3 linked regions of the Homo sapiens genome follow. The protein of the gene in region 3 interacts with the protein of the main gene of each other region in a biochemical or structural test. Each region holds a gene or a part of one and is shown on either strand. Other genes may lie near its edges.

The links. The genes of interacting proteins can lie anywhere in the genome.
Region 1: of the proteins of NEK1 (region 3) and CSN2, one has a biochemical effect on the other in vitro, tested with the Homo sapiens proteins (one study listed by BioGRID).
Region 2: the proteins of NEK1 (region 3) and LRRK1 form a complex in vitro, tested with the Homo sapiens proteins (2 studies listed by BioGRID and IntAct, with this or other methods).

What each region holds. Positions count from the first base shown.
Region 1 is NC_000004.12:69,962,729-69,970,391, reverse strand, and holds the start of CSN2 (beta-casein isoform 1 precursor), read left to right. Parts: upstream 1-4,663; 5' UTR 4,664-4,711; intron 4,712-7,663. UniProt on the Homo sapiens protein: Important role in determination of the surface properties of the casein micelles.
Region 2 is NC_000015.10:101,068,601-101,076,356, forward strand, and holds part of LRRK1 (leucine-rich repeat serine/threonine-protein kinase 1), read left to right. Parts: intron 1-70; coding exon 71-248; 3' UTR 249-7,756.
Region 3 is NC_000004.12:169,608,979-169,617,449, reverse strand, and holds the start of NEK1 (serine/threonine-protein kinase Nek1), read left to right. Parts: upstream 1-4,866; 5' UTR 4,867-5,228; exon of another isoform or gene 5,229-5,306; 5' UTR 5,307-5,430; intron 5,431-8,471. UniProt on the Homo sapiens protein: Phosphorylates serines and threonines, but also appears to possess tyrosine kinase activity. Involved in DNA damage checkpoint control and for proper DNA damage repair.

The sequences.
Region 1 (7,663 bases), about 100 Mb from region 3:
AAACAAATGATATATAGAATGGACAAGGCATGCTTGTTTTTGTATTACTTTCTTAGAAACCTTAACTTTGTTGCCTGTGGCCTTGGCAACTCAGAGCTAAACCACAAAGCCACATTGGGTAGCTAGGGCCTTTCCTATTTGGACTTAGGACGCTGGAGTAATTTCATCATTTCTTTTCCTGGCTTCCTCCTGGCTCAGTATGAACATAAAATGAATATCAGCTGAACAATTCAAATGTATAGTAGACATTGACCTGGGTTTTCTGAGAAATATGAAATATATGTGACAATCAGGAGTGTCCCCCTCATTCATAGATCTAGGATGATATTAATGCAAGGTATATTATAAAGAAAAATAGTTATGTAGGTCTATACTCAGCTTATTTAATTTAGAAGGGCATCTATTTGTGCTTAAGTCCTGAATATATCTGTCATAGGCAGTAAATAGAAAAAATAAAAATTATAAGAATGAGTAACATCCAACACAGTCAGCCAAACACTTATGAATAGCAATCACTAAAGAGGCAAGGAAATTTGTAGACTTATTTTGTAAATGGGCACAACTCAAGTATTTTGAAGCCTACCTCAGTCTCTACTTTCGTACTTTGACCAAGACCCTGCTCTTTTCTGGGATTCAGTATTCTTTTTTGCCTCAATTTTCTGTACTTTCATAAACATTAGCAATCAATATTTACCTACTGGAAAACCAAAACAAAAACAAAGAACGTGAGCTCAAACTTGGTCAGTTTCATTTTAATAAATGTGTACCTGTATCATTTGTTCTCTAAAAATAGCCATTCTCTAAATGTTACTGTCCATCTTAAATTCTTCAATAGATCCCTCCATCTGCAGAATAAAATTCACATTCCTAAGGAGCAAAGCATGCTTTGTCCATCGTCGTCTGATTGCTTTCTCTTTTTGTGTTCACATTTTCATCCTCTCTCTTCCTTGAACTTCATTATCCAGGTTCACTACTTGATTTAGTTCTAGTTACTTGTTTCTCATATCCAAGACTACAGTCTTTAACTATTTTTAGCTAGAATTCTCTATCCTCCTCGATTAACTGCTTTATCTGGCTTCAAGATTCTGCTCAGGACTCATGGCCTCATGGAGATTCTATTTTCCTCTCCCATGAATCAACTAAAATGAACTAAGTATTCTCCTTCTGTCAATTGCACCTTCTTACTGCTTTATTAGCATATTCCTTACATGTCGTAACAAGTAGATTTTTATGTCTGTTTTCCCACGAAGGTTTTGACCTCCTTGAGGTCAAATGTATCTTTTATTTTTCATTTCATTCTGGATAATTTAGGAAATGCCTGCAAACATAGATATTTAATATGAAATACATTTTCCTCTAACAAACTTTATGTTCACCTATTTTCAGCATTCTGAATGTATGGCTATTCCTTGGATCTAGTCATCATACAGAAATTCTCTTCTTTCTAATGCTGAAATTCCCAAATGAAAAAATCTCTGTTTTTGTACTTCTCAAAATTGGTATCTTCTTAGGCCAGGTCTTTGCCTTTCTTGCCATCTCTAGTCATTCAAGCCCTCTTTTTAGTATGTTAGCTTAAACAATACCTGATGGTTTGCCATTTTTAACACAAACACTAATAATCCCAACCCTATCCTAACAATTCTCTTAACCTATTGATACTAAATCTCCGCCATCTTGCCATACAACTACTTAGATAAAAAAATCTGATATATAATCTCATATAAGTCATAATTATTGCTCGTGGATTTGTTATTCATTTTCATTTTCACATTAACCAAAAATTTCTGCTCTTTCAAAATTACATATATTTAAGATGTACAACATGATGTTTTGATACTTATATAGTGAAATGATTACTGTAGTCAAGCAAATTAATATGTCCATCACCTCACATAGGTTACTCTTTTTATCTTGTGGTAAGAACATCTAAAATCTACTTTCAGCAAATTTTTATTATACAATAAAATATTAATGATTATCATCCTCACACTGTACATTACATGTCTAAACTTATTCATCCTACATAACTGCAGCTTTGTTTCCTTTGACCTACATCTCCTTATCTATCTTCCACCCTGAACCCCTGATACCCATCCTTCTACTCTTTGTTTCTATATATTCAATTTTTAAAACAAGATTCCACATATAAATAACATTGTGTAATATTCGTCCTTCTGTATCTGGCTTAGTTGACTTAAAGATTCAACTATGTATAACCATGTCCTTCAATTTCAGTTGAGAACTCCCCCTTTCACCTCACTAGAACATTAAGACCATTTAACTTCAACTTCTCTACCTTTTATCTCAAACATGTATTGTATCTACTTATCTTCTTATTCCTTTTTGTTTTCTTAGGAAAACTGGTACATTTTTTATAGGTCTTATTCTTTTCTCCATGACTGTACAGGAACTTGTTCCATTAATTTACTCCCACTTCTTTGGTATGTTTCAACTCTTTCCTTATTGGCCTCTTTCTTGTAAGCTACAAGTCTTCCTTACCCTAAAAATACCTTCCCGTGGTTCTGATTATCCCTGTACACCTAGTCACAATCTTACAGTTCTCCTTATCTCCTCTTCTAAGTTTCTCAGAAGGGCAGTACACATATGTTACTTTTAATTCCTCACAAATTACTTACTTCTTAACCATTTGGAGTGTATCTCAATCAGCTGTGTAGCATTTCACTGTTGACCTCACTTGCTTCCTCTAGCAATGCAGGATATCAAGGAGAGGAAGTGGATTCTGTACTCTCTTATTCTTGATATCGCAGGTTTTTTTTTTTCCTATTTCCTTTTGCTATACCAGCCCCTGTAAAAGAAAGGATACTTGAATTTTGTTTTGTACAATTTCTTTTCTCACTTGATACTCTTTCCCTAGAGACCTTCACTTACTCCTTTGAAGGGAGAAATTACCTTTAAAAATTATACTCATGATTATTTCTTGAGTATCACATTTAATTTAAAACATCTTCTGGACACCTTCAAATTTACCACGTACAAGGTTTTACTCAGTGTTTCATTTCTAATTTCAGCCTGGTTTCATATTTTGATTTATAACATGGCTAACTTTTCAGTCACTCAGGCATAATATATTAATTCATTTCCCCAATTTTTCACATTTCTCGTATTTTAATGAGAAGTTTGTCTTTTTATTGCCTAAGATGCCCAGGACCATTTCCCTACTTGAGATCATCATAATGTCTGTCTTAGGCTACTGCAATAACATAACATAACAACTTCCTTTACTAGGTTACCTGATTTGTTGTCATAAAGTCATGAAATCCAAGAAATTTTACAATCCATTTTTCTTTCAAATCTCTAATATATTTGCTTCCACTGAATTATGTCACAGTGCATGCCTGACATTCACAGTCATCCATGATCTGATTCTATCAAACCTCTGCAATTGTAACTTGCAATGTATGCCCTCTGAATATCCTCAAACTGGTATGTTGCTCTTTCAGTTCCTGTGTTTTCTTCAGCCAAAATATCTATCCCCATTTAATCATCTCGCAAAATTCTACTCATTCTCTAAGGCTCAACTAAAAGAGCAGTTCCTTAATGGCAAGCTCCCCTGCCACACACAGCACAGAGGCCCTACTTTTCCAATTCAGGCATAATTAAATTGTACATATTTCAACCAAATGCTACATTGATAGATAAATTTTATAAAAAATTATCAGAAGGTTAAAACATGGGCTCTGAGACTCACATGTGATCAAACAGAATCACATGTAGTCAGACAGATCTGAGTCCAACTGGTATCTTTGCCATTAACAATATGGTTTTGAGCAAGTTACTTAACCTTTTGGCATCTCTGTTTTCTCAACCTAAATATGAAGAGGAGAGCTACCTCATGATGTTCTTGTGCAGATTATACAAGATAATATCTTTGCTTAGTGCTTGGCAAAGGGTTAGAACTAAGCAAAAAAACCCATCATTAATATTATCATAATTATGCTTGACCTGAAAAGAGATAATCAATATTAAAAGGTAAATAAAACTCCGTGATACTTTGCAAAATTTTTATTACAGATTTACTGAAGATTTTGCCTATACCAGCCACCCAGATTCCCTCTTCAAGTTATTCCATTACAGAGGAAAGTTTATTTATCTTGTGTACAAAATATTTGTTTTAACTAAATTATTTTTTTTTCCAAATCAAGTGGCCCTGGGAGAAACAGTTTGCCTCACATAACTAAGCTACCATCATGGACTTGTTATCTTGTCAGTTTCTTCATTTCAGCATAAAGCACTAACAACTGCTTAGGTTCACATGAAACTGTGGCCTTTGTGAAGCCCTGTGTATATCTAGCGTTCACATACAATTTTCCCACAACTGAAATCTCAAGGCCCCACTAGGCCCTAAAGAGACCTAATTATGTCCATAATAACTTGGGGACAGGGCCAGAGTATCACTGTCCTCCAGTCATTGTCTTTTGTTATTGAATAATTGCATTTCCTGGACAGGTTTCTTTTATCAACTTGTGAATTGTTCCCTTGTTATAATGATGCCCAGAATTTCTGGGGATATGTAATAGGCAGAAATCATTTTCTAATCATGTGGACTTCTTGGAATTAAAGCTCGCTATTGATCTTATTTCAAATCACAAAATTAGTGTGTCATTAAATATAGTATATAAACAGTCACAGAAGCTGATGGACCATCATCCATCCAGCACTACCTTCACTTCTCTTCAATCTTGGAAAAACGGTAAGAATTTTAGATACAAATTTGTTGTATCTTCTCCTAACCATGTATTTCAAAGTAGCTTGAGCTATAGAAGGAACGTAGTTACTTAAAATATAGTGTTTGAAATAAAAGTATTTAAGGTAGTACTGAGATTATTTTTAACACTTAGGCTAAAAAAGATAGAAGTGCCCAGAAGAATTTGGTAATGACATATAGCCTTCATGAGTTTAAGAAAATATAATAGCTAATTTTATGCATATATATATATATATATATATATATATATATATATAGTATGAGGCTAGTTCATAGTTAATATTAAAAGGAGATTCATTTTTTTAATTAATCTTCCAATTTGATTTAGCATATCACAGTTATAAAAAGAATTATACTTCAATTATAGTATGGGTAGATAAATAATTACTGGAAAAGCTTTGTCCAGCAGGTAGTTTACAGCAGTAGCATACTGAGTTGAGAAATGGAGGGAATGGTATGGGGGCATTTACTACTTTAAATGTTTATAAACAATGTTTTTAGAAGAGTTTACTCATCAAACTTGTCTAGAGCCTCAAACTTCCCAGTTTATTATCTAGTTTGTAATATTTCAAAACAATATTAAAATGAGACAGAAATACAGAATTAAGTAAAAAAGAAACAATGTGGTTTACTTTGTAAGAAAATTCTTAATGGGGTAGAAAAGACTTGGAAACCATAAACAAAGATAATAGATGATATAAAAGAAAAAGTAGCTTAGAGTGTACCAGTTGATAATGAAGCTCTGGCTTAAAAATTAGTATATAAAAGTATACCAGTATGTAGTATATTTATAGTATAGAAATGAGTATAAAAACTAGTATAATTAGTATTAGTATATATTAGTATATTAGTATATAAATTAGCATTGTAATTATACATTCGTATATAAAATTATTATATATATTAGTAGATTAGTAATAAAACTAGTAAAGTTTATATTACTTATAAAATATAGAAAATGCTGTGGGATCTTCCCTATGTGTAATTATATATAATAGAGTGTTATATTCTGTTTCTGAACCCTGACATAAAAATTTGGGAACTTATAGTGGTCTTAGGCAAAGTAAAATTAATAAAAACTTAATTAACATTCATAAAAAATCTAGAAAAAATATTTGTTTTCTGTAATAGAATTATGTTCAACCTTCAAATATTGAAAAGAACATCTCTCAAATAAATTAAAGACTTTTTTGATGAAGTATTTTAGTTCAAAAATTTAGTTCAAAAATTGAGTTTCAATATCTGAGAATGAAGATTTGAGTGGTGAGTAATATTGTGGCACAAACATTATTTTGAAATAAATTACAAAAAAATGTAAGAACACATAACAAGGAGATGATTTAGTATATTTTGGTCAAAAATATTAACATATATTTCACAAGAAGAGGTAGTCCCAAGCTTAGCAGTGGGCAAGAGGCTCTGACCCCTTGGCGGATCATCAAGAGAATCGTGTGTACATTTCAATAAAGAGAAGAGAAGAAGCCTAGTGTACAATATCTAAAGTCATGTGGCATAAAGGAGAACAGACATTATTAGCTATGTGGGGAAGATGAATATAAACGGAGAAGAAACAAACTCAATAGTCCAATAAAGTCTCTGGATAGTGACACAAATAAGGAAAGTGTTAAAATGAAAACCTCAGTCTTATTGGAAATGAGGAGAAATAAACTAAAATAGTCATGGTAACCGTTTAGTGAAAAGAAAAAAGGTAAAAATAAAATGTGACTTTTTTGTACACATTTTCTTGATCAGTCTCTTCCAGTAGAACTGAGGCTCCATGAGGGAGTAATATCAGGACTGTAATATTTTGTTCATTGCTGCGGTCCTGGTCCCTAGACAGTGTCTGGCAAGAACAGATTCTAAAGAAATATTTTTAAGTTAATGAATAAATCTTTTTTTAAATTTTATTTGTCTTTTGAAATTATTATTATTATACTTTAAGTTTTAGGGTACATGTGCACAAAGTGCAGGTTTGTTACATATGTATACATGTGCCATGTTGGTGTGCTGCACCCATTAACACGTCATTTAACATTAGGTATATCTCCTAATGCTATCCCTCCCCACTCCCCCCACCCCACAACAGCCCCGGTGTGTGATGTTCCCCTTCCTGTGTCCGTGTGTTCCCATTGTTCAATTCCCACCTATGAGTGAGAACATGTGGTGTTTGGTTTTTTTGTCCTTGCGATAGTTTGCTGAGAATGATGGTTTCCAGCTTCATCCATGTCCCTACAAAGGACATGAACTCATCATTTTTTATGGCTGCATAGTATTCCATGGTGTATATGTGCCACATTTTCTTAATCCAGTCTATCATTGTTGGACATTTGGGTTGGTTCCAAGTCTTTGCTATTGTGAATAGTGCCGCAATAAACATACATGTGTATGTGTCTTTATAGCAGCATGATTTATAATCCTTTGGGTATATACCCAGTAATGGGATGGCTAGGTCAAATGGTATTCCTAGCTCTAGATCCCTGAGGAATCGCCACACTGACTTCCACAATGGTTGAACTAGTTTACAGTCCCACCAACAGTGTAAAAGTGTTCCTATTTCTCCACATCCTCTCCAGCACCTGTTGTTTCCTGACTTTTTAATGATCGCCATTCTAACTGGTGTGAGATGGTATCTCATTGTGGTTTTGATTTGCATTTCTCTGATGGCCAGTGATGATGAGCATTTTTTCATGTGATTTTTGGCTGTATAAATGTCTTCTTTTGAGAAGTGTTTGTTCATATCCTTTGCCCACTTTTTGATGGGGTTGTTTGTTTTTTTCTTGTAAATTTGTTGGAGTTCATTGTAGATTCTGGATATTAGCCCTTTGTCAGATGAGTAGATTGCAAAAATTTTCTCTCATTCTGCAGGTTGCCTGTTCACTCTGATGGTAGTTTCTTTTGCTGTGCAGAAGTTCTTTAGTTTAATTAGATCCCATTTGT
Region 2 (7,756 bases), on a different chromosome or scaffold from region 3:
AGGGGGAGGGTCCCAACCCCACCCGAGTGGGAACCCCTGTGAGTTTCCTCAGACCCCCTTCTCTCTGCAGGGTGCTGGTGGATGCTGCCGTGGTGGCAAAGGACACTGTTGTGTGCACCTTTGAAAATGAAAACACAGAGTGGTGCCTGGCCGTCTGGAGGGGCTGGGGCGCCAGGGAGTTCGACATTTTCTACCAGTCCTACGAGGAGCTGGGCCGGCTGGAGGCTTGCACTCGCAAGAGAAGGTAATTCCTGTGGAATGACTGTCACACATCAGAGCTGGCTGGCCCGGGGCTGCAGCCTGACCCCTCTGCCATCGGCCTCTAGTTCTCCAAGGACCTAGAAGACAGATGGAGTTCTCCCCTGAACTCCTTGCTGCTAAGAAGTGCTGAGAAGTTACTCGCCTGGCGGTGGCTCCAGGGTTCTCTGGTTCTCTGGAGCAGAGTTCTCTGAATACCCCATCCCCCAACTGCTGATTTTACAGCCCCAGGGAAGACAGTGGTATCAGGCTGGGAGCGGCCTCCTCTGGCCTCCCCCATCAGTTTGCAGGAGCAGGGGTGCAGGATCCTGTTCTGAGCTGGGTCAAACAAAGCAGGGCCGGGCCTTCCTGCCATCCCCAGGTCTCAGATGGAATTACACTAGAGGCCCTCCGCTGGGAAGCACTTGAGGTAGGGCAGGAGGGGGGCTGTGACCCCTGCCCTTTCCCCGCCAGAGACCTCAGGCTCTCAGCACATTCCACAGGCTCCTGAGTCCCCGAGGCCTGGGCCAGCTTGGGCAAGCCAAGATCAGATGTCTCTGTGTTCGGGAAGGTCTCCGTGTGGGAAAGCCCTTGGGGGATCCCGGGTGAGGAGTGTTGCCCCATCCAGAGAATGAATGAGTTCCTTTAAGTGCCACCGCCAGCAAGCCCAGAGGCACACAGTCCGAGTGCACCCGCTTAGCCTTTACATTCCTCTCCACCGACAAAAGGAAGGGGAAACTCAATCAGCAGGACTTCAGAAAGGGCCTTGTGTTTATAGCTTTGTCAAGTAAATTTGGACGCAGCTGGAGCACAGGCCCTGTTTGTTTGCACATAATAATCTTGTTTATCACTTTAAAAAATTCAGTAATATCTCAGCAGTCAGGCTTCTGGTTGTGAAATCACATTGTATGGGATTTATACCAAATTATGTATTTGCTAAACATTCACTGCACACGTGTACAGCGGAGTACGAAAAGGAACGTTGTCCACAGGGGATTTATGGATACAACAGCAAACATTTTATAAACTATGCACATGCATTACACACATGCACACACATATGCACACACATGTGCAAACATAGCCACTTTTTTGTCAAGAGTTACCCTTTGGGGCTCCTTAAACCAGAATGGGAGTTTGAAAGAGAGATCATACTCCAGCTGAAGTTTGTTGACCCTTTTCTAAAATTAAAAAGATCAAATTTAGTATTTGCTGGATATGCAGGGAGATGAGACTCTTTTAATCTCAAAATAAACAGATTCTTTCAAGAACGAAGCTGTGGCCTCTGTCTTTTGAGCGCTTATGACCACAGCACGGGCTCAGTCCCTCCCAGACCCACTCGCTGTCTGGGGATAATGGGCAGCCCCTCCTTGCCCACTGTGCCAACATGCAGGTGGCCCCTGAGCAGCTTCCATGGGTGGAGACGCTGCTCTGTCAGTCACAGGCTTGGAAAAAGCGAGTCCCCCCACTCTTTTTTTTTTTTTTTTTTTTTTTTTTACCAACCTGGGCACCAAGTCCCAGGGGGCTGAGGGTCTGTGCTTCCTGTCTACCTCCCTGCCATTCTCTCACCCTCATCCCACAGCAGGGTCTCAGGAGTCCCACTCTCCCTCTCCTCTCATTCCAGTGCCCCACAACTGCCCAGTTAACCCCCAGATGCAAGCCAGATTCCATCTGCCCCAGGCCCCAAGCTTTTGCTTTGGCATCACGCGAGGCCAGGCTGCTTTGCAGGCACCAAAATTCACCCTCTCCTACTCCTGGAAAAGCCCAGCCCCAGGCCTCACAGAGCCAGGGGAGGGGATCTCATCACATCACAGTTAGAAATCATACAGGCCTAAAGTCCCAGCTACCCAGGAGCCAAGGCAGGAGGAACCCTTGAGCCTGGGAGTTGGAGGTTACAGTGAGCTATGATCACACCAGCTTTCTAGCCTGGGTGACAGAGCAAGACCCAACTCTTAAAAAAAAAAAAAAAATACAGGAAATGACTAATGAACTTGACTCCATGAAATTGAAACTTACGTGGAAAATTAGTCCAAAGCCTAAAAGACTAGCAACTGAGAAAAAAAAACATTGCAACACAAATGAGAGACAAAGACCTCACTTATCTTCATTACAGAGAGTTCGTAATGTCAATAAGAAACAGAAAACCGGAAAGGCAAACAGGTTAAGGGCATGGGCAGCAATTGAATTACAAAGAAACAGACAGACCCTTAAACATCAATGCTTGACCTCACCCAACAGCAGGGAAACAGTCTCCACAACAGTAAAATGTTGCTGGGATGGGCCCAGCATTCAGCATGGTCCCTGCAACTTTGGCCTCTGCCCAGTGACCTCTGGCGGGTGTAGAAGAGCTCATGCTTCAGTGAGGGGGTGGGGGGCACCCTGAGGACCCTGTCAACATCAGCTGGACCACAGGCATCTCAGATAGATGTCACTTACCACCCTCATGTTGGCAGAGGGTGGTAACCAGCCAGCATCTCCTTCTTAAACACCTACTAAGTGTCAGGCACTGTGACCGGAGACACAGTCAAGAATCTCTGTGTTTTTTTTGTTTTGTTTTGTTTTTGTTTTTTGAGACGGAGTCTCGCTCTGTTGCCCAGGCTGGAGTGCAATGGCGCGATCTCAGCTCACTGCCACCTCCGCCTCCCAGGTTCAAGCAATTCTCCTGCCTCAGCCTCCCGAGTAGCTGCGATTACAGGCGTGCACCACAATGCCTGGATAATTTTTGTATTTTCAGTAGAAACGGGGTTTCACCATGTTGGCCAGGATGGTCTTGAACTCCTGAGCTCAGGTGATCCGCCCGCCTCATCCTCCCAAAGTGCTGGGATTACAGGTGTGAGCTACCTGCGCTGGCCGAATCTCTGCTTTTAGGAGCTCACTCCTCATAGGTAGAGTTGACAATAAGCACACAAACAAGTGAGATAGCAGGGCAGCCGGACCACCCAGTTGGGCAATTCGTGGCTTGGCCTAGGAACGTTACATTTGACTGAGGCTGGCGAGGCCTGCAGCCTGCACCAGGAGGTACAATGTGAGACTGAGGAATGGGAAGAAGGCATTCCATGGAGCTCTGAGGGCACTGGGTGCAAGGGCCTTGCACATGCAAAGACCCTGTTGTGGGTTCAAGCCACTGTGTGGGAGGGACAGGAGAGCCTGGCGTGGCTGCGGCCTTGAAGGAGGGGACTGTGCACACAGAATTGCAAGTGGGGGTCTCCGCGGAAGCTCCTGGCAGTTTTAAGCAGGATTATTAGATGATTCAGTCAACTTTACAACTCACTTTGCTGAATGGAGGGTGGATTAACGAGGGGGTAGTTGGAGGCTACCCCTTGGAGGGCATTCTGGACTTATCTACCAAAATTTCAAATGCACATACCCTCTGACCCAGCAGTTCCACTTAAGTATTTGGTCCTGAAATCTTGGTAAAAGTGCCCAAAGATACAGAACAAGGATGTTCACTATAGCATCTCTTAGAATATGGCCCCAAACAGGAAGCAACCCCAACCTCTATCATGAGGGAGGTCATAAAATTCCTGCACATGCAACAGTGCCATCCTCTGCAGCCTGTCAAAGAGGCAGGCAGCACTAACTGCTGGACTGGAATGTTCTCCAAGATATAATAAATGCATTTGTTTGAAAGCAGCTTGCAGCACAGTGCGTCAGGCCTCTGAGCCCAAGCCAAGCCATCGCATCCCCTGTGACTTGCACGTATATGCCTAGATGGCCTGAAGTAACTGAAGAATCACAAAAGAAGTGAATATGCCCTGCCCCGCCTTAACTGATGACATTCCACCACAAAAGAAGTGAAAAAGGCCGGTCCTTGACTTAACTGATGACATTATCTTATGAAATTCCTTCTCCTGGCTCATCCTGGCTCAAAAAGCTCCCCCACTGAGCACGTTGCCACCCCCACTCCTGCCCGCCAGAGAACAAACCCCCTTTTTCCTTTACCTACCCAAATCTTATAAAACGGCCTCACGCCTATCTCCCTTCACTGACTCCCTTTTCGGACTCAGCCCACCTGCGCCCAGGTGAAATAAACAGCCTTGTTGCTCACACAAAGCCTGTTTGGTGGTCTCTTCACATGGACGTGCATTAAATTTGGTGCCGTAACTGGCGCGGGGGGAGGGGGGGGGGAACCTCCCTTGGGAGATCAATCCCCTGTCCTCCTGCTCTTTGGTCCATGAGAAAGATCCACCTACAACCTCAAGTCCTCAGACCAACCAGCCCAAGAAACATCTCACCAATTTCAAATCCAGTAAGCAGCCTCTTTTTACTCTCTTCTCCAACCTCCCTCACTATCCCTCAACCTCTTTCTCCTTTCAATCTTGGCGCCACACTTCAATTTCTCCCTTCTCTTAACTTCAATTCCTTTCATTTTCTGGTAGAGATAAAGGAGACACGTTTTATCCGTGGACCCAAAACTCCAGCGCCGGTCACGGACTGGGAAGGCAGCCTTCCCTTGGTGTTTAATCATTGCAGGGACACCTCTCTGATTATTCACCCAGGTTTCAGAGGTGTCAGACCACGCAGGGACGCCTGCCTTGGTCCTTCACCCTTAGCGGCAAGTCCCGCTTTTCTGGGGAATGGGCAAGGACCCCAACCCCTTCTCTCCGTGTCTCTACCCCTTCTCCGCCTTTCTGGGGGGCAAGAAACCCCCAACCCCTTCTCCTTCACCCTGAGCGGCAAGTCCCGCTTTTCTAGAGGAGGAGCAAGTACTCCAACCTCATATCTCTGCGCCCCAATCCCTTATTTCTGTGCCCCAACCTCTTATCTCTGTGCCCCAATCCCTTATTTCCATGCCCCCACCTCTTATATCTCTGCACCTTGATCCCTTATTTCCACATCCCGACCTCGTATCTCTGCACCCCGACCCCTTTCCCACTTTTCTGGAGAGTAAGAACCCCTGAACCGCTTCTCTCCGTGTCTCTACTCTCCCTTTTCTTTAAACTTGCCTCCTTCACTGTAGGCAACCTTCCACTCTCCATTCCTCCTTCTTCTCCCTTAGCCTATGTTCTCAAAAACTTAAAACCTCTTCAACTCACACCTGACCTAAAACCTAAATGCCTTATTTTCTTCTGCAATGCCGCTTGACCCCAATACAAACTCAACAGTAGTTCCAAATAGCCGGAAAACAGCACTTTCAATTTTTCCATCCTGCAAGATCTAAATAATTCTTGTCGTAAAATGGGCAAATGGTCTGAGGTGCCTGACGTCCAGGCGTTCTTTTACACATCAGTCCCTCCCTAGTCTCTGTTCCCAGTGCAACTCATCCCAAATCTTCCTTCTTTCCCTCCCGCCTGTCTCCTCAGTCCCAACCCCAAGCATCGCTGAGTCTTTCTAATCTTTTCTATAGACCCATCTGACCTCTCCCCTCCTCCCCAGGCTGCTCCTTGCCAGGCCGAGCTAGGTCCCAATTCTTCCTCAGCCTCCGCTCCTCCACCATATAATCTTTTTATCACCTCCCCTCCTCACACCCGGTCCGGCTTACAGTTTCCTTCCGTGACTAGCCCTCCCCTACCTGCCCAGCAATTTTCTCTTAAAAAGGTGGCTGGAGCTAAAGGCATAGTCAAGGTTAATGCTCCTTTTTCTTTATCCCAAATCAGATAGCGTTTAGGCTCTTTTTCATCAAATATAAAAACCCAGCCCAGTTCATGCCTCGTTTGGCAGCAACCCTGAGACACTTTACGGCCCTAGACCCTAAAAGCCCAAAAGGCCGTCTTATTCTCAATATATATTTTATCACCCAATCTGCTCCCTACATTAAATAAAACTCCAAAAATTAAATTCCGGCCCTCAAACCCCACAACAGGATTTAATTAACCTTGCCTTCAAGGTGTACAATAATAGAAAAAAGTTGCAATTCCTTGCCTCCACTGTGAGACAAACCCCAGCCACATCTCCAGCACACAAGAACTTCCAAACACCTGAACTGCAGCGGCCAGGCATTCCTCCAGAACCTCCTCCCCCAGGAGCTTGCTACAAGTGCCAGAAATCTGGCCACCAGGCCAAGGAATGCCTGCAGCCCAGGATTCCTCCTAAGCCGTGTCCCATCTGTGCGGGACCCCACTGGAAATCGGACTGTCCAACTCACCTGGCAGCCACTCCCAGAGCCCCTGGAACTCCGGCCCAAGGCTCTCTGACTGACTCCTTCCCAGATCTTCTTGGCTTAGCGGCTGAAGACTGACACTGCCCGATCACCTCGGAAGCCCCCTAGACCATCACGGACGCCGAGCTGCCAGTAACTCTCACAGTGGAAGGTAAACCCGTCCCCTTCTTAATCAATACGGAGGCTACCCACTCCACATTACCTTCTTTTCAAGGGCCTGTTTCCCTTACCTCCATAACTGTTGTGCGTATTGACAGCCAGGCTTCTAAACCTCTTAAAACTCCCCAACTCTGGTGCCAACTTAGACAATACTCTTTTAAGCACTCCTTTTAGTTATCCCCAGCTGCCCAGTTCCCTTATTAGGCTGAGACACTTTAACTAAATTATCTGCTTCCCTGACTATTCCTGGGCTACAGCCACACCTCATTACTGCCCTTCTTCCCAATCCAAAGCCTCCTTTGTGTCCTCCTCTTGTATCCCCCGACCTTAACCCATAAGTATAAGATACCTCTACTCCCTCCTTGGTGACCGATCATGCACCCCTTACCATCTCATCGAAACCTAATCACCCTTACCCCGCTCAACACCAATATCCCATCCCACAGCATGCTTTGAAAAGACTAAAGCCTGTTATCACTCTCCTGCTACAGCATGGCCTTTTAAAGCCTATAAACTCTCCTTACAATTCCCCCATTTCACTTGTCCTAAAACCAGACAAGCCTTACAAGTTAGTTCAGGATCTGTGCCTTATCAACCACATTGTTTTGCCTATCCACCCCATGGTGTCAAACCCATATACTCTCCTATCCTCAATACCTCACTCCATAATCCATTATTGTGTTCTGGATCTCAAACATGCTTTCTTTACTATTCCTTTGCACCCTTCATCCCAGCCTCTCTTCACTTTCACTTGGACTGACCCTGACACCCATCAGGCTCAGCAAATTACCTGGGCTGTACTGCCCCAAAGCTTCACAGACAGCCCCCATTACATCAGTCAAGCCCAAATTTTTTCCCTATCTGTTACCTATCTCAGCATAATTCTCATAAAGACACACGTGCTCTCCCTGCCGATCATGTCCGATTAATCTCCCAAACCCCAACCCCTTCTACAAAACAAGAACTCCTTTCCTTCCTAGGCATGGTTAGTGCAGTCAGAATTCTTACACAAGAGCCAGGACCGCACCCTGTAGACCTTCTGTCCAAACAACTTGACCTTACTGTTTTAGCCTAGCCCTCATGTCTCTGTGCAGCGGCTGCTGCCACCCTAATACTTTTAGAGGCCCTCAAAATCACAAACTATGCTCAACTCACTCTCTACAGTTATCATAACTTCCAAAATCTATTTTCTTCCTCATACCTGACATATATACTTTCTGCTCCCCGGCTCCTTCAGCTGTACTCACTCTTTATTGAGTC
Region 3 (8,471 bases):
CAGTATGCATTTTTTAAAAGGCCCCCAGTATACAGGAAGTATTTGGAGACACAGCAAAATAAGTTATGTGAAAAGGGTCAGTTTCTTCCACTGTAAATCAGATTTTTGGGCTAGGACTGGTTGGAGTTTAAGTTAATAACGAATACTCAACCAATATTTAAATTAGCTTCACACTTCTGCCACCAACCAACCAACAAAACTCTTGGGGCCTCAAGGAAAGGGAAAAAGGACAAAAAGATTGACTCACAGTGTAAGAGTTTACCAATTACAACCAGGTGTAGGATAGCCTGTTCACTAGTATATCTGGAACCCTGGCAGATTGAAACAAGAGAAACAAATGATAGACATTACCAGTGAGTGGAGGTGGTATAAACCTTGCCCTCTGTCAGCAATTCTCTCTCTGGGAGTGGCAAGTTGGATGATGCTATTTTATAGAAGTGGCAAAGTAAAGAGCACTGGGAATCATATCTCAGTTTCTTCTATCTTGCTCCCTGGACCAGTAAAGTTACTCTGAACTTCCCTTGAAATAAAAAAACCTAGAAATAGGATTACTTACCATAACAACTTAAAAGAATACACTTAAAAAAAGTTGCACAGAAAAACCAAACAAGATTGTATAGCTCTACTTCATGTATTTATGAGTTGTTTCAGAAAAAGAACTTTGATCTTGCCAGGAGCGGTGGCTCATGCCTGTAATCCCAGCACTTTGGGAGCCTGAGATGGGTAGATCACCTGAGATCAGGAGTTCAAGACCAGCCTGCCGAACATGGCGAAACCCCGTCTCTACTAAAAATACAAAAATTAGCTGGGCACGGTGGTACGTGCCTGTAATCCCAGCTACTCGGGAGGCTGAGGCAGGAGAATTGCTTGAACCCGGGAGGTGGAGGTTGCAGTGAGCCAAGATCACTCTACTGTACTCCAGCCTGGTGACAGAGTGAGACTCTGTCTCCAAAAAAAAAAAAAAAAAAAAAAAAATTAGCCCAGTGTGGTGGTGCATGCTTGTACTTCCAGCTACTCAGGAGGCTGAGGCAGGAGAATCGCTTGAACCTGGGAAGTGGAGGTTGCAGTGAGCCGAGAGCACGCCACTGCACTCCAACCTAAGTGACAAGAGTGAAACTCTGTCTCAAAAATAAAAAGAAAAGAAAAAGAACTTTGATCTTATTGTTTATGTTTCAGACACATTGGAAAGAGAGAGAATAGAAGGGATTAAAACATTCTATTATGAAAATAGTAGCATGGTTCTAGTCTAGAATTTCCTCCTGATTCCACTAACATCATAGAAGTGAAAATGACCTTTTCTTGTCTTTTGTCTTTTCCCCAAAAATAACAAGAAGTTATCCGAAATAGCTTTGCACTTCTAATTACAATTCGAGACCTTTGACATGGCAAACAGTCTTCCAGTTTAGTGTGATTGTTTCCCACAAAACTGCCTCAGTAGGACTTGATACACTCAAAGCTCTTTCAGCCAATCATATCCTGAAAACAGTCTCATGAAGTGACTCATTTCTCAGGCTGCACACAACTAAGGGCACAGTGTTTTGTTTTATTCATCCTAGATACAGATTATGATCATTCTTTTCAGGTGGTGGACTCATCTGTGAGCCCTGGCAGGTGACCCAATTCAGAAAGCCAGAAACTCAAAAGCTGACTAGATGTTTTATCTTTGCATATGGAGCTGGGCCTACCAGATTAAGATCCAGAAATTCAGTAGGCTGCTACAGTTTAACTCGTAGCTATGCAGAGTTAACAGTGAGTTCAAACCACATAAGGCTAGAGTAGACTTTCAGGAACGTGGCTTAAATAACTAAAAATTTCTCGCCTAGAATGTAGCAAGATGGAGTACTAAATGCCAAGACATTGACTTTTTTTTCTCCCTTGGATTTGAATATTACATGTCTGTAAAAGATCTGGATTTTAGAGAATGCTTTTCTTCATATTTAGTATTTTAGGCCCTTCTCTAATCACAAAAGATTGTAGGTAAGTATGCATATTCTCACTCATAGGTGGGAATTGAACAATGAGAACACAAGGACACAGGAAGGGGAACATCACACACCGGGGCCTGTTCTGGGGTGGGAGGAGGGGGGAGGGTTAGCATTAACATGTTAAATGACGAGTTAATGGGTGCAGCACACCAACATGGCACATGTATACATATGTAACCTGCATGTTGTACACAAGTACCCTAAAACTTAAAGTATAATTTAAAAAAAAAGATTTTAGGTGAGTATAATCAGAACTTATGCCTTCATAAATACATAGTCTTAATAAAATCATTTACATAATAATTTCACAAAGGGAAAATAGTGTAGTTCTATACCAACCATTTGCTCTAATTTGTTATTCTCTATTTTGTTTCACCTTGCTGCCTGCTTTCTAGAAAGAAGGAATAACAATATCCATTCTTTGAATATGTTTGTCCCCATCATCTAACATATAGTGCTTAATTGTGAATGCATGGCAGAATATATTTCTGAAAAATCTAGTAGAATAGCTTAGGTATACTGCTAGTCCCCTTCCATTTACTATATTGTACTACCACTATTAATAAGGAGTTAAGAAATTTTCATAACCAAGACATAGGAGTGTTAAAGTGAAAAAATATGCATACATTTTGACCCAGCAAACCTACTTTTCGAAATCTATCCCACAGAAGTAATTATACCATTGGAAACAATATGTCTACTGAATGGAGTAGATTTTGGTATAGCCATATCATGAAATATCAATATCATTCACAAGAATTAGTTGATATCCGCATAGATGTTCATATACTATTAAATTTAAAAATGTACGTTGCAAAATAATATGTATACTATAGTCCCGGCTAGGCACAGTGGCTCACGCCTGTAATCCCAGCACTTTGGGAGGCCAAAGCAGGCAGAATTACTTGAGCTCAGGAGTTCAAAACCAGCCTGAGCAACATGGTAGAACCCATCTCTACAAAACACACACACAAGAAGCCTGGGCAACATGGCAAAAACCCTATCTCTACAAAAAAAATACCGAAATTAGCCAGGTGTGATGGCACGCACCCATGGTCCCAGCTGCTCGGGAGGCTGAAGTGGGAGAATCACTTGAGCCTGGAAGGCGGAGGTTGCAGGGAGCTAAGATCGCGCCACTGCACTCCAGCTTGGGAAACAGAATGAGACCCTGTCTCCAAAATAAATAAGTAAATAAAAGACTAAGACTAATATATAAAATATAAAAATGCATGCTTATGTTTTTAGGAACTTAGAGAAAAATGTAGATGATATTAATTAACTGTTAACATTGGTTTCGTGGAGGACAGCACAGAAGAGCTCTGGGAAGGAGACGATAGGCTTTATCTTTGTGTACTTGTGTTACTGGCTTGTTGCAAGAAGCAAAAACTTTTTTGTTTGAAAGAAAAGTCCAATAAAATATTTAAAGAAAAAGAAACCCCAAAGCACTCTTGTTTAAAAATAAAAAAAAAAATCAATTGTACAGGGGTATATAAACCAGAAAGGGAAATCAGGTAATCTTCTTAGGTAACCTGCTTTATTTACTCATCAATATATCAATGGTATCTTTGTATGTCAATAAAGTAGATCTTGATTACTCTTTTAAATGGCTTTAGAGTATTTCATTGTTTGGATATATTATAATTTAATCAATTCTTTATTGTTATACATTTACAGTATTTCTAGTTTTTCTGGTTATAAACAATAACGGTTATCCTTGTATATAAATCATTGCTCACTTGTTCCAGAAGTTAAATTGCTGAGTCAAAGGATATGCATACTGCTAGCATACCTTCTAGAAAGACTGTAGCAGTTTGTAGTCCTACCAATAGTTTATGACATGAGCCTAAAGAATTATCTAAGGAGGTTAGCTGACTAGCCATTCTTCCTGTAAGCAGCAAAAAGAATTTGCTTAGATTAGTAATTGGCAACATTTCACTTCACTTTGATGTACAAAAGGATGTGGGTAGAACTACAATTGTGCATTCAGACATGATAATTCCTACTAACTGGGGGTAGGAGGGCCCACAGGAGTGTAGACTAGAAGTAGAAAGAATGAGGAAAATAAGTCTTTTGTAGCTGTATGGCGATTGAAGAGGAGATAAAACAAACTCTCCAGCTTTTCAGGTTGGGTGACTTGCAGCGCCATCGTCTGGCAAAGCCGCCAAAATCTTTCAATGTCCCTAGGAATAAAGTTGCCCTGAGTAGGGCCACTCAGGATGACGCCAGATGATATCCCTTATTATAGTTTTAGGGGAATCTCTTCCTACCTTCGCCAGTCCTGCAGTGAAAAAATGTACTTAGACTGCTGTACATTTCCAAACCCTTCAACATACAGACAAGTAATTTATACATACATTAGATGTAAAGGTGTAGAAAACCCCATACAGCTTTTTAAAAATATCTCAAGACTTAAACATTCTTCTGTTTCAACCATCCAAGATATAATAGGAAAAGACTTGCTTTTTAAAGCAAAATTGCTCTTTAAAATGTGGCATCCCTAAGTAGTGCGCTTTCATGTAAAATAAAAAAGTCCCTTTCTCGGTGTAGTAGCTGTGGGAAAATTTTATATGCTTTATATTCCAAATTGGTTTCAACTAGTGAGTTCTCTCCCGCATCTCTGCATGACTCTTAACAGCTTTACACTCTCTCCATCCTTTTCATCTCTCCCGTCTCGTCCTTTCTGTCTTCCCGCCTGCAGAGCCCGCCCCTCCCGTCCCTTCGCACAGCACCCCGCCCGCCCCTTCGCACAGCACCCCGCCCGACCCTACGGTTCTAGCCCAGCCTCACTGCTCCTTCCCAGCCGCCTCCGCTGCGTGCCGCCTTCCACGCGCTGACGTCACACGCCAGCGCCGGTGACGCGCCGGCCGCTCTCCCTTAGTCCGCATTCGCTCCAGGGTTTTGGGACCCTAGGTTGCGGAGTCCTTACCCTACCCTGGCCTCTCGAGCAGTTGTCCCCATAACTCGGAATCTAGAGCCGCTGTTGCGAGGCAGGAGCACGTGGCAGTCAAGTAGCTTCCCAGTCCCGAACGCCGCCCGTCCCCACCCCGCCGTGGCCACTAGCAACGACCTCTGTGAAGTTGGAGAGGCGGTAACGGAGGCACTCCCCCTGCTGCACCCCGCCGTTTCTACGGGGCTCAGAAACCAGTTTGTTTGTTTCGTCGGGGTAGTGTCGACCTGTCTTACGGGCGTCGCCCGAGACAGGACGGAGTCAAACCCGTGGTATCAACTGAAGACGAGTGTCAGGTGTGGAGAGTCTCAGTGCCCCCTTTCAGTCTGGACTGTGAGCTGCTGCTGGTTAGACAGTCTTGGTTTCTCTTTCAGGATGTCATTTTCAAAATGCGGGATGGTACCTCTGCTTTATTAAGCCCCGTAGGAAGACTGCCACACCTAGACTGATGCTTATTAGTCATCACCGTTATTCCTACTAACGTCCTGTGTCACTGAGGTGAGTTCCACTTGGGGGAAGGAATGACATGCAAAATGGTAAAAATCATCCTGGAAATGAGATGTGCGTAGAACTGCTTATATTGAGATTACACAGATACCTTAAGTGTTTGCAGGGAAAATACCTTAATCTCATTTAAATGTTAATTCTCTAAGACACTCTGTATTAACAAAGCGATTCTTGGACATTACGGTATTTTTAAAAACTAGAGCGGTAATGGGATTAAAATAATAGGAATCTTAGTATGGATAAGCAAGCATTTGCATTGCTTATGTTGTGTCCAATCTTAAATTACTGATAAATTTTAATTAGGAAGCGAATATGAGTAGTAGTTAGCTGGTTACCCTGTAATCTTAGATTTCTGTTTCCATGATTTGACACAGTTTCCATATGTAAGGCATTAATTGTTGTACTACTTTAAGAGTTTATCATAACTTTTTTTGCAGGCCTATTTTTTGTTCTTTAAGATCTGCTTTAGGAAGCAGAAATATTTTTTATTGCCTTGGTATGTTTCATTAGAAATGTTTATGAAGGATTAAAAGTGGCATCCAATCTAAGTTAATGACCTTTTTTTATGATGCAGCAGTATTGTAGAGCTGATGGAGGGGAGCCAAATTTGGAGAGAAGTAACTCCTTGTTTCTAGTTTACATTTGTCTGGTTTTAGAGGTTCTACAGATCTGTTTCACTTAAAATATCCATTGTTCTAGGTGAAATGTAAGGAGCCTATTTTGTGGGAAAACAGGTTTTTTTCACGTTAAAAGTCACTGTCAGGAATTTAATAAAGGTCGTCGGACTTGACCACAGAAGTTCTTTTGAGGTCGTGTGAATAGTACATTGACATTGTATTCCAAGTAAATTTTGCCCTGTCTAATCTCCTGCCTTCTAGTCTAAGTCATGAACATGACACCTTTTCACGAATGTACATTCTTTATTTACCTGTTGGTAGTTTCTACTACAAAATCTGTTGAATATTGTCTGAATAGACTTACAGAGAAGAAAAAATATTTTGAAAAAAGTCTAATAGAAATTCCATTTTTGCTTTCTGCTTTTTCGAATAAAGGAAGATAAAGAACTTTTTTCCTGAGAAGATAAATGGATCCCCTCCCACTATTCAAGATGGTATTTATTGCTTAGGCAGAACTGTATGTATGGATTGTAGCTGCATACAGCGCCAAAAGACTTCTTGAAACCTGTTGCCATGCCTTTACCATGTTTCCCTTCAAGACAGCCTGTCTATAGAATATCTGAAACACCTGATGAGAGCTTAATGCTTAACCTAAGTATGTGTTCCAGATTGATCGAAGTTGAGCTTTTCCATTCATATACTCTAAAATTGTTTATATGTGGCTCACAAAATTTTATTATGTCCAAAATTGCTTATTTGTGGCTTTAAAGAAATTCTTAGTGGCTGGGTGCTGTGGCTCTTACCTGTAATCCCAGCAGTTTGGGAGGCCACGGTGGGTGGATCACTTGAGGTCAGGAGGTTGAGACAAGCCTGGCTGACCTGGCGAACCCATATCTACCAAAAATACAAAAAATTAGACGGGCGTGGTGGTGCGTGCCTGTAATCCCAGCTACTTGGAAGGCTAACACAGGATAATTGCTTGAACCCGGGAGGCAGAGGTTGCAGTGAGCCGAGATACTGCCACTGCACTGTAGCCTGGGCGACTGAGTGAGGCTTGTCTCAAAGAAAAAAGAAAAAAAGAAAGAAATTCTGGGTCAGACGCTGTGGCTCACACCTGTATTCCCAGCATTTTGGGAAGCCGAGGCAAGTGGATCATTTGAGGTCAGGAGTTCGAGACCAGCCTGGCCAGTATGGCGAAACCCCGTCTCTACTAAAAATACAAAAATTAGCTGGGTATGGTGTCACACTCCTGTAATCCCAGCTACTTGGGAGGCTGAGGCAGGGGAATCACTTGAACCTCGGAGGCCGAAATGGCACCATTGCATTCCAGCCTAGGCAACAGAGCAAGACTCTGTCTCAGAAAAAAAAAAAAAAAAAGAAATTCTTAGTAAAATGTGAGGAAAGCTGTCTTATTTGACTAGAGGCTGAGGTACTTTTTTCTGGAGCATAGTTCATATACTTGAAAAGAAGCATGATGCCATAAGAAAACTTTGAATGTCAAAAGTGAGGAGTTTGGAGATGGGGAATTGTTGAAGGATTTTAATTGGAGAAATTGATTTAGCCAGTATTCTTACTATTTCTATCAGATATTATTGTTTTAATATTTATTGTTTTGAATAGATAATACATTTGTATGGTTCAAAATTCAGAAAGTACAAAAGATTGAAAAATCTTTTCAACTATTAAATGCCTTCTTTGTAGGCAGTATTACTAGTTTATTGTGTATCTCTCCATAGATATTATTTAATACAAGCCAGGGGTGCATGTGTGTATATATATACATATGTATATTTATACACATATATGAGTAACTGTAAGCATATATACTTATGTATTTCCTTTTACTAAACAAATGATAGCATGCCATATTTATTATTCTGATCCCTAAAAATCTAACAGTGTATTAAGAAATTATATCAGTTTAAAAGTTGCTGTGTTGACTGTATGTGAATGATTACATTTTGCTCTATTAGAAACAGTGCTGCAGAGGATAACTTTGTAGATACTTTGTTTTCCTACATTTGGAAATATTTGTAGGGTAAATTGCTAGAAATTGAATCACTACATCAAAGTTTCTGTCCCCTTATAATTTTGGTAGATGTTGCCAAATTATTTTCCTTAGTGCTTGTACCAATTTATAGTCCCACCATATTGTTTCCTGCTATTCCCCCACAGTACAGTACAATAATCAACTGTGAATTTTGCCATTCTAATTGATGAAACATGCCGTCTCTTGTGCTTTTTTAAAAAAATTGTGGTTAAATATACATAACATAAAACTTACCCCTTGTATTTTAAAATTGTATTTCTTCTTCTTTTTTTTTTTTTTTTTTGAGAAGGAGTCTCGCTCTGTCACCCAGGCTGGAGTGGAGTGGTGTGATCTCAGCTCACTGCAACCTCTGCCTCCCAGGTTCA